Linked DNA regions of Homo sapiens: region 1 is linked to region 2. A link means that fine-mapping ties the variant in region 2 to the expression of a gene that starts in the linked region. Tissue or cell type: whole blood. Region 2 holds a variant in brackets; the other region holds the start of a gene. All regions are shown on one strand. Distances are between the middles of the regions.

Evidence for each region. PIP is the estimated chance that this variant, and not a neighbour inherited with it, causes the effect.
Region 1: CEP57L1 starts here. The variant in region 2 is fine-mapped to the expression of CEP57L1 in whole blood (INTERVAL, PIP above 0.99).

The regions. Positions count from the first base shown.
Region 1 is chr6:109,093,161-109,098,492 of GRCh38, forward strand. It overlaps CEP57L1 (centrosomal protein 57 like 1), which reads left to right and starts at 2,347. Exons shown (of 11, transcript NM_001271852.3): 1 at 2,347-2,415. It overlaps SESN1 (sestrin 1), which reads right to left and starts at 1,686. Exons shown (of 10, transcript NM_014454.3): 1 at 635-1,686. The coding sequence starts at 913. RefSeq lists enhancers at 1,054-1,203, 2,074-2,333 and a silencer at 1,314-2,013.
Region 2 is chr6:108,964,366-108,969,965 of GRCh38, forward strand. ARMC2 (armadillo repeat containing 2) reads left to right here. Exons shown (of 18, transcript NM_032131.6): 17 at 615-775. Among named protein-coding and RNA genes, the nearest start is that of ARMC2-AS1, 43 kb to the left of the region's middle. The variant C/A (reference allele first, on the strand shown) is at 2,534.

The DNA.
Region 1 (5,332 bases), 130 kb after region 2:
GCTACACATGTGAAAAAGAAACAATTCAGGCAAACACAGAGAAAGCTAGTTGAGCAATTTGCCATAAAAGTGTTTCTATCAAATACCCCACCTGGGTCCACCTTTTCAACATGAAGATATTAGCTTCTTTTAAGATAGGTTTTTATTATTTTATATAATTCTCTTCTTGAAAAAAGAGAGGTTGCATTTAGAGAACACATCCTGGTTTGTTTTGTTTTTAAAAATAAGAGAAAATTGTTCCACCAATTATCTTGAACAGGCTGACTAGGAAACATTTAATATCCTTTATCATTTTAGAGGCTTTTAAATGTGAGCCTTTACACTCAGAACACTGTGACAATGTGAAAAAAAAACACTGGCTACATTTTCCAACAACATGTAAAAAGAAATATAAGGAAAAACAAGTATTTACTTGGAATTAACTGTAGTTTTCATATATTCTTCCAGGAGCAAAGCAGTTTCTGCCTAAAACTCTAGAAAAACACTACTTGTTTACTTACAGAACACTCTAAAGATGTAAACTCATAATAAAAGTTTACATAACAACCTAATAGAAACAAACACAACGTGAATAACGGCAAGTAAAATTTAACTGTAGTAGAGACATAGTTGTATTTAAAATGCTCTTCCTTACCTGGATGCTCTTCAGAATAAACTCACTTTTCTCTCTCACATCTTTGAAGGGACACCTCTTAGAAAGCATAAGCAGATGAGCAAGTAGCTTATTCAACCCATCCGAAGACTCGGTATTTGAAAGCCCGTCTGATGGACGATGAGGTGTTTCTTTCACCGAACGAAGATACTCGGTTTTCCTCAAAATGGTTTGCCTAATGTTTTCCAATGCTGTCTCCCTAGTAGTTGAATCTCTGCTGCAGAGTCCATCCCATCTCACTTCATTCTCTCCTTCAGCCATGACAATAGTTTTTCCTTTGCGGTCTTCAGTTACCTTTCAGCATGCCCCAAAAAAATTGCTTTGTATTTTTAAAATGAAAAATGTAAAAATAAAATCAGAGAAATCAAATCGTCATGAAAACACACATCTGGGTGACATTTGGAACCACTGGTGCCTTCAGCCGATCTACAAGCTAGGTCACCCTCTCACCCTCTCCTTGTACACGAAAGGGCAGTCTTCTTTCTGGAAAAACAAAGTTTGAAAGTTGCAACCTTGCAGCGCTGGCTTTGGTGGGCAGAGAATTTCGGGGAAGCGTTCTCCTCCGTCTCGCGGGGTCAGTGGATATCCTCACGTTGTGGAGCTGTCAAATCCGTGCTCTGCCCCAAAAGGCTGTTAACAGCTGAACGCCCTCCAGCCATTCGGGGCTTTTTTGTCTGTGCAGCCACCGGGTTCTCTCCGGCGTTCCCACCCCGCCCCTTCTCCGACACCAGTCCCCGCCCTCCGCAGCTCCTCCCAGCGCCTCAGCAGCCGGCCGGCGCCGGCAGGGAAGGCTCGCCGAACCCTGGCCCACTGGCCGCAGCGGCCGGAGGCTTGGGCGCTGTCGGAGGGCGGCAGTCTCGGGCAGCCGTAGTCTCGGCGGGCGGCGGTGAAAAAAAGCGTCCCCCAGCCCCGCCAATTCGGCACCCCCGGGAAGACGCTACTTCTCCGATCCCTGAGCCCTCGCCCACCACCGCCGAGCCAGAGGGCACAGGGCGGCCCTGGCAATCCTCGAGCGCCAGGCTGGGCCGCGGAGCTGGCGGGGCGGCGGGGCCCGAGGCGCAAAGCCCGCCCTTCGCCCAGCCCCATCGGTGGGGATCAGCCCAGAGGGCGGGAGCAGGGAGTGGAGACGGGGTCCTCACCCCCAGCCCCTCCCCTTTCTCCGCCCGGCACAAACCGGGAGCCGCCCCGGCCCCAGCGCCTTCTTCCCCGCCCAGGCAGACGCGACCCGCCGAGGCAAAGCCTTAGGAAAAAGCCCCGCCCTCTGGCAGGCTACCCTCCGGACCCCAAGTGCGCCGCGCGCGGCTGCCAGCCACTGCCGGCTGCTACGCATGCGTGACTGCGAACTGGGCCAAGCGCCCCCGGAGGCGCTAAGCTTGCGCCCTGAGGCGGTTTCCGTTCCCGGACGTTTGGACTCTGTCCTGGAGAAGGGGAAGGAAAAAGTAAGACGTAGAAGTACACTGAGACTTCGTCACACATAAAACAAGCACGACAAAGAAAGAGGGCGCGAAGGGACTCCTGGAAGAAATTGAGTCTACATTTAAGATCACCCTAAAAGTAGTGACGGCCTCTTCATTACTCCAAACCCCAGATTTAAGTCGGTAGGACGTCTTCGCGTTGACTTGTGGGGAATGTAGTTTCGATGCTGCCGGCGCGTTTTGTTTGCGACAGAAACTACAACCCCCAGGGGCCACCGCGACGTTGCCTGTGGGTGCCCGCGAACCAACGGTTAGCGGTGGCAGGGGCTGACTGAGAGCGTCTGCTTGGTAAGCACTGTAAGCTGGGTTGTCACCTTTCCTTGACAGGGTTTTTCCTTCCTCCATTTCCTCTGGGATTTTGGAGACAAAGCCATCTAGGGTGGCCTCCCTTAGTCCAAGGACTTTTTCCAGTGACTTGCGTGGGAAGGACTAGTCCAGCTGCCCAAGCGCGGGGTGTGGTGGGTGAGGCAAGGATTTGGGATCCTGATCCCAAGGGTCGCAGGGAGCGGCCTAAGTAAGGCCAAGAAGGAAGGATGCTGTGGAAACTGGAGCTTCGCGCTGCTGCCTCTGATTCCGCCCTTTTTTGTGGACACACGCGGGGTGGATTTGGGATCTCCGCGCATTTGCACCTTTGTTTGCCTTTGCTTAGGGATGTTCTGGGCTTTATTTGCTCAGTCAAATGAAATCCTAGGCAGGGCTTTGAAAGCAAGTTGTCAAATCCATCTCGTAAAAGAATCCCCAGTATTCCTAGATAGGAATTCTTGCAGGCTTTAAGGATACAGCAGGAAAAAGAAAGCAAAACCGTAAAAGTCTCCAAAACTTAGTCGACTTTTTCAAAAGATTCAGTCATTTGCTTAAAATTAGTTTGCTTTTAAAAAGTTATTATTTGAGAAAAGTCGAGGTTTGAACGGCCATCAGTGGACTGATAATCGGTGTAGATTTTAATTCTTTACATTGCAGAATTGCATTGCACTAAATTCTAAAAATTTCGTCTTGCTAGGCACTGAGTATACAACAATGAAAAAGACAGTCTTACTAGTTAGAGGAACTAGTTGTTAGACATACGGTTACAATAATACATGATATCACTGGGATGTCTAGAAGGAGATGACTTAGCCCAATCTTGGAAAGTCAGGGAAATCTTCATCCCAGGGGAAATGAAGACCAAAAGAACAGCATATGCTAAGGCCCAGAGTGAGAGATAGGGTACTTTCAGGAAACGTCAGTAAGCCAAATCATGCATACTTGGCGGTGTGGGGTGGGACGGGAAGGGTGCTTTTTGTGTATTGATGCACTTAGAAGCTACAAAGAGACAGGTATTGTGAATTCTTTACATCGTTTCTGTAAGTGAGCTATTTTTGAATAGATGCATAGTTCTGATGAATTGGTCTAATTTCAAAAGCCTTGTTACATTCTGACACTTCTAGTTTGAATCTGAATTTTAAAAAGGGAATAACTTATGAGTGTGATTGAAAAAGCAAAACAAAAACCATTCCGTTTTCATCTCCTTTTTGGGATCTTCATTCTCTATCCAGCCCATAAAGGGTCGGGTAGTTTCTTAAGGCTGGGTGCCTTTTTATGCCGTAGTTAAATATGATCTCATGTATACCCATGGCTTCACCAACACCTATGACTCTCAAATGAATAGCTCCATTCAGCTTCACCTCTCAGCTTTCACAATATCTCTTGGATATTTCTTCTTGGATATCTCAAAAGCATCTCAAACTCAACATACCTAAAACCAAATGCATAGTTATCTCTTATGAATCTAATTCTTTTTCAGTGTTCCTTATTTCAGCAAAGGACACTACTATCCATCTACTTGTGAAAATTTGAAAGCTAAACATTATTCTTTATTTCTTCTTGCCCTTCATACTTCTATGGCCAAATTATTATGAAGTTCTGCCAACCTTATCTCTCAAAATATCCTTCAAATATATTTTTCTCTCCACCTGTCTTCAAACTGCGATAATCTCTCAAGACCACTACAGTAGCAATTATTCACAATGACCCTCCTCCATTAGTTCTCCATTATATCTGCCAGAATGATTTTTTGAAACTGCAGATTTGATCAGATTTTCTCTTGGTTAAAACTATTCAGTGGTGTCCTACTACTGTTAAAGACAAAACTCCTTTATAAAGCCTGACATCATCTGGTACTCTTTCAGACTAACTTCATATATTGCCCTCCAGATCAGCCATACAGTCCATTTTTCAGTCATTGGTTCTCATATTCCATTTCACCCACGCGTTTACTCAACAAATCTCTGTTGAGTCCCTTTTATATAACAGGACATTGAAGATACAGCATTGACCACAATATATAAAAATTCCTACTGTCATAGAGCTTGCATTCTACTGAGGAGAGATAATAAATAAATATGTAAAACACTTAGTAAATGAAATGAAGACAAATGCAGTGGAGAATAAAACAACTGGGAAGGGGAATGGGGAGTGCCAGGATGTGAGGGGCAAGGTTCACTTTTAAATAAGGTTGTTAGAAAAGACATAATCCAGAAGGGGACAATTGAGATATGAAGTAGGGGAGGGAATAAACCATGTAGATGCCTGGGCAAATAACATTCTAATGAAGAGAATTAGTGCAAAGGCCTTGGGCAGAAGCCTGAGTGCGCATTTGAGAAATAGCAAGAAGGCTAGTGTGGCTGGAGCACAATGAGTACAAAGAGGAGAATAACATGAGGTCACAGAGAAAGGAAGTAATGGTAGGAGAACATGTAGGTGACTGAAAGGACTAACATTTTTAATTGGGTTGGGAAAGCATTGGAGAGTTTTGCGCAGATGAGGGCATGATCTGACTTTTAAAAAATGACTACTTTTCTCTCTCTCTCTTTCTCTCTCTCTCTCTCTCCCTCTGTCTCAACGGAGTTTTGCTCTTGTTGCCCAGGCTGGAGTGCAATAGCACAATCTTGGCTCACTGCAACCTCCACCTCCCAAGTTTAAGTGATTCTTCGTCCTCGGCCTCCCAAGTAGCTGGGATTACAGGCATGCACCACCATACCTGGCTAATTTTGTGTTTTTAGTAGAGACAGGGTTTCACCATGTTGGTCAGGCTGGTCTTGAATTCCTAACCTCAAGTGATCCACCCACCTCAGCCTTGCAAAGTGCTGGATTACAGGTGTGAGCCACCGTGCCCGGCCTCTTTCTTTTTTCCTGAGACAGAATCTGACTATGTCACCCAGGCTGG
Region 2 (5,600 bases):
TTCTTGGGAGCTTTGGCCCTTTCATCATTCCTGTGGGGCAAAGGTATTTCAACATTGGGAAGCCCCTAAGCTGAGGCTAAAGAGGGGGTTTAGATTCCACTGGATACTTAAAATAGTGCAGAAGTAGGCCAGGTGTGGTGGCTCGCACCTGTAATCCCAGCATTTTGGGAGGCCGAGGTGGGCAGATCACTTGAGGCCAGGAGTTCGAGAGCAGCCTGGCCAACATGGTGAAACCCTGTCTCTACTAAAAAGACAAAAATTAGCCAGGCGTTGTGGCACACGCCTGTAATCCCAGCTATTCAGGAGGCTGAGGCAGGAGAATCGCTTGAATCCGGGATACAGAGGTTGCAGTGAGTGGAGGTTGCGGTGAGCCGAGATCGCGCGACTGCACTTCAGCCTGGGCAACAGAGTGAGACTCTGTCTCAAAAAAAAAAAGGTGTAGAAGTAGATTATTGCTACTTTATAACCACTTAAATTTATAGATAAGGAATTATTTTAAGTGATCACTGGATTATACTTACATATCACAGAAGGATAATCATTATGCTAACAATATTAAAATTAAAGACAGATTCTGACCTAATAACTTCTCAATTTGAATTTTATTAACTCAGGTTAGTGGACTGTTTAAGAGATTTGGGTCCTACTGATTGGCAGCTGGCCTGCTTGGTTTGTAAAACTTTATGGAACTTCAGTGAAAACATCACTAATGCTTCGTCATGTTTTGGAAATGAAGACACCAACACACTCTTACTCTTGCTCTCATCATTTTTAGGTAAGACTCTTGACTATGATGAGTCTGTGAGTTTTATCAGAGTGTGAGATAGTTTTTTTCTGTGACCTGTTCGGATAAATATTAGTATGCATTTAGGTGACTATATTTCTATAAGCAACAAGAGTATGTTAAAGATTACTATAATTTGGAACTGAAAAGGCTGAATGCTATTTACAGTGGGGACAGAAGGACTTTCAACTCATTAGATACATTCATGATTTCTTCTATGGCTTTTTTTTTTTTTTTTTGCATTTTCTCTAGAGTGCATAAATATAAGACCTCAGCGTAAATGTACTTCTGTTGTTCAAAAGCAAATAGACACTATTGTAATTGAGAAAATACGGCTAAAATCTACTCAAGTCATGCTTTTAAATGAAGCTATACATTTTAATTAGCTACGTTAATTATCATGTGGGTGAGGGCCTGTGAGACTATTTGGCATTACAATGGAGTTTATATCCTTGAAAGGTAGGAAATCACTGATACAAATCAAAGGAAAGAAGATTGTTTCTTTCTTTTCTTGGGACAGGGTCTTGCTCTGTCATCCAGGATGGAATACAGTGGTGCGATCACTGCTCACTGCAGCTCTAAACTCCTGGGCTCAAGTGATCCTCCTGCCTCTGTCTCTCAAGTAGCTGGGACTACAGACACGCACCACCATGCCCAGATAATTAAAAAAAAATTTTTTTTTTTGTAGCGATGAGGTCTTGCTATGTTACCCAGGCTGGTGTCAACCTCCTGGGCTCAAGCGATCCTCCCACCTCAGCCTCCCAAAGTGCTGGGATTACTGGTGTGAACCACCTTGCCTGGCCAGGATCATTTTTTACATTTAAAAAATTTTTATAATTTTAGGATAATTTTTTTCTTCCTGGGTTAATTCTAAAAACAATGATTTGGGTCAGTAAGTGAGTGTTTTTAATAATCCTTTTTCCCAAATAGAGGAGATGTACCCATCACTGCCCAGCCACCATACTAGATCCAGGAGGCCATGTGGAAAGGCTCAAGGTCACTTGGAAGCCATAGGTGCTGAGTTTTTAAATTTTGAGCTCAACTTCTCTGCAACCTGAGAAAGCTTAACAGACACCTTTCCTTTACACTCCTTCACTAACCAGAGCAGAGGCTCCCAATCCTGGCTGCAGAGCAGACTCACCCGTGGAACTTTTAAAAACACAGATTATCAGCCGTTCCGAAATGATATTTTATCATCTCCAAGATGAGGATAATTAATGTCCAGATTGCAGGGTGATAAATGAGCAGATGTGTACAAAGAGCCTAACACAGTGCCTGCTGCATAGCAAGTCCTCAGAAGGTGGCTGACGTGCTCTGGAAACTCTTTAAGTGTTGTAACACCGTGCTACTAAACAGAAACTGGAACTCAGGAGTTGTTTGAAATAATTGGGTTTGCTAGGTTGATGTGAAATTTGGTTTTTCCAGGTAAATATAATTTTGTACATGTGTTTTAAAACACAATAAGGAAAAAAAAGTGAGCATTTTTTTTTAATCATTGAGGTTCACAGTCGGCTCCATGAGCATTAAACTGACTCAGGTTGCAGGGAGCAGAAGTGCATGTTCAGGTTGCCTTAATTCAGTTCTCGATGGTGGTAGAGCATTGAAATCAGCTGTGGAGTTAAAACCCAAAAAAACTAAAAACACCTTCCTGGCCCCAGCCCTAGGAATTCTGATTCAGAAGCTCTGGGATGAGGCTGAGAATCTGTGTTCAAAGTTCCACAGGTGAGTCTATTAGCTAAGATTGAGAGC[C/A]CCTGCTCTCGTTAGCAAAGGAGCTTAAGGGAAGAGTGTACAGAGAAGAAAGAAGCCAGGAAACAAGATACTGCTCAAAGCCTCCCAGAGAGGCAGGCAGGAGCCAGAGTCCCAAGTGACCCCTCAGCCGTGGGCGTCATGAGCTCCGCCCCCTGGGCTCTGCCATTCTGGAGACCCAGCTGTGTTGTGTCTGCTGTTAGGGAAAGAATTCTCTCCCCACTTACTCTCTCTAGGCTCCTTCTAGATCATGGCTTCAGCTACCTCCAGGCTTCCACTTGCTGCCCTCCCTGTGTCTGTCTGTTGCCAGGGCACTTTCCTATGTCACCCACTCCAGGAGAAGATATGATTGGCTCAGTGAGTCACTGTCCTATGGCCCAGGGCTTTCCCGCATAGGCAGCAGCTACCGGGTGACAGGCTATCTGTGGTTTCCTTTGTTACCCAAGCCTGGGGCAATCAGCCATAAATAACAAGGATGGTGGGGCTGCGGGGCCGGGGCCGTGTGGCATAAAGATGGATCAGAAGGAGGTGTGGGCATGGCTGGCTTCTCAGCAGGGGCAGTGTACCTGGAAGGCACTTCATTTTAGTGGGCCCTGCTGCCTGTTACAGTCACCCCTTGGTATCTGGGGGGATTGGTTTCAGGGCCTGCCTCAGATACCAACACAGATGCCCAAGTGCCTGATATAAAATGACATAGAATTGGCATTTCACCTACACACATCTTCCTGCACACGTTAAACCATCTCTAGACTACTTATAATACCTACAGTGTGAACGCTATGTAAATGGTTGTCGTGCTGTGATTTTTATTTGTATTCTTTTTATTGTTGTTGTTTCAAATATTCTGTCTGTGGTTGGTTGAACCTGTGGATACGTGGCCCGTGGATGCGAAGGGCTGACTGCGCTCCATTCCCAACTTTTCCATAGCCTAACTGGGCTTCTGATTGTGCTTCTCCCGCCTCTGTGCCTTTGCACATGTTCTGTTTCATTTCCTGCCTGCCCATCCCAATCTGCCTAGCCAGGTGCAGGCCCTTCCCACGTAGCTTCTCAAGCCCACAGTCGTAGGCTAGTCATAGGAAATCTATACTTCTTATATAGCAATCAGTCATGAATTGTGTAACTTGTCCTGTAATTATCCTGTATTATTATTTTGTGAGTTTTATCTTATTTCCCCTTTGCAACTGAACCACCTTAGGAAAAGGATATTGCCTCATACAAAGAAGGTACTTGATAGCTGCATGTGGATTGGCTAACAATGGTGGTACCTTTGTTTCAATAGTGCTATATCCTTTTAAAAGCATGTTTATTCTATTTTTGAAAGATCTGAGGCCATCAGCTAGGTGACAGATACGGAAAGTAGGTTTTAGGACAGTTAAGTGGCTTGCCTGAAGTCATACTGTAGCAAAGGCAGGAATTCCCATCCGAAAACAAACAACTAGCCTTGTGTTTTCCAGCCGCTCCGTTACCTAGAACACCCTTACTCCACTGCACCTTGTGCAGGGGGACTGTGGCATGGATAACAGCAAATAAACACAGCTCACTCAGGAAGCCAAGCCACTGCAATGCATCCCAGGTTTCTCACGTGAGCTCCTCTTCACGAACCATGGGGACTGTGCCTTGTGGGCTGGGTGGTGGGCTGTGCTGCCTCCTGGCTTTTCTCTTGGCAATGAGCACTCAGACCCTGACTTCTGACCGGGTCGTGGCTGGGTCTGGGCAGTGGGACTGCTGCGAGTGAAATGGGCATGTGGGTGAGAGTATACTTGCATTTCAATTCTTTTACAAAGATAGCTAAAACAAACAAACAAACAAAAACAGGCCATTTTGGAAACAGGATGAGCTGTTGAATTACCAAGGCCTGTGTTGAAGTATGAACACTGTTTTTGCAAATACTGGTATGGCAATTTCTATAGTAATGTAAGTTACCTAACTTTTTCTTGCTGAGTGACTAGAAAAAAAGGAGAAGTAATATACCCTCAACATCGTTGGAATGTTGACAGTCTTTCTGGAAAGTGGCTTTAAAAGAACGTGGTCTGAAACTTCCCATTATACTGCAGTCATGTCTTATGAGCTCATAAGCAGCGTGTTGATGCTGAAGTTCTTAGTGGTGTGCTGAGCACTCCAGACTACCATGAGCCCCTCTGTGGGGAGCTGGCACCTGATGACCATGTGTGTAGTTTATTGTTGCAAATGGGAAGTACACTAGGCTGTTGTATGTTCATCCTAAGTTTTGTGGCAGTGGGCACTTAGGTTTTGTGACAAGGGTAGAGCGGGGCCCCACGTTCAAGTTGGAGGATCACATCAACCTATGTTGAAGAGCTTTCAGGTGCTTCTAGAACATTCGACAACTTTGCCTTATAAGAGAATGGTCAGGGCGATGATAAATCCCTTAAACAGCCATCTGCTGCTGAACAGCTAGCTAGGAAATAGTGTAGTGAGTAAAGGAAGCTTTTATAGATGCTGCAGGACACAAACTTCTAATGATGATTGTGTTGTAATGACCATTGATACATATTTATATTTTAGGGTCTTTTAATTCTTTCTAATACTTTGCCCCAAATTTTAGTATTTGGAAGCATGCTGTGCCTAAAGAAAGCTTAAGAATGATTGGTTACCTAAATAAGCACTTTTCACACTGCAGGTCAGGAAAACAATTTAGTTGGTTGTGACCAGCATCTTTAAAAAATGAAGTAGCAAAGAAAGAAAATATCAGAATGTATTATATTTAGTAAAGACAAGTATTATAATGTGAAACATTTGTTTATTCATATATAAGTAGGTATATGTATACAGAGTCATGATGCAAAATACTGTGAAGCACAGTTTCTAACTTATGATGATTCAAATCTTAAAAAGAATTAATCAAAGGCTGAGTGCAATGGCTCATGCCTGTAATCCCAGCACTTTGGGAGGACGAGGTGGGAGAATCACTTGAGGCTAGGAGTTTGAGACCAGCTTGGGCAACGTAGTGAGACCCATCTCTACTAAAAGTGAAAAAATTAGCTGGGTGTGTGTGTTTTGTAGTCTTAGCCACTCAGGAAACTGAGGTGGGAGAATCACTTGAGCCCAGGAA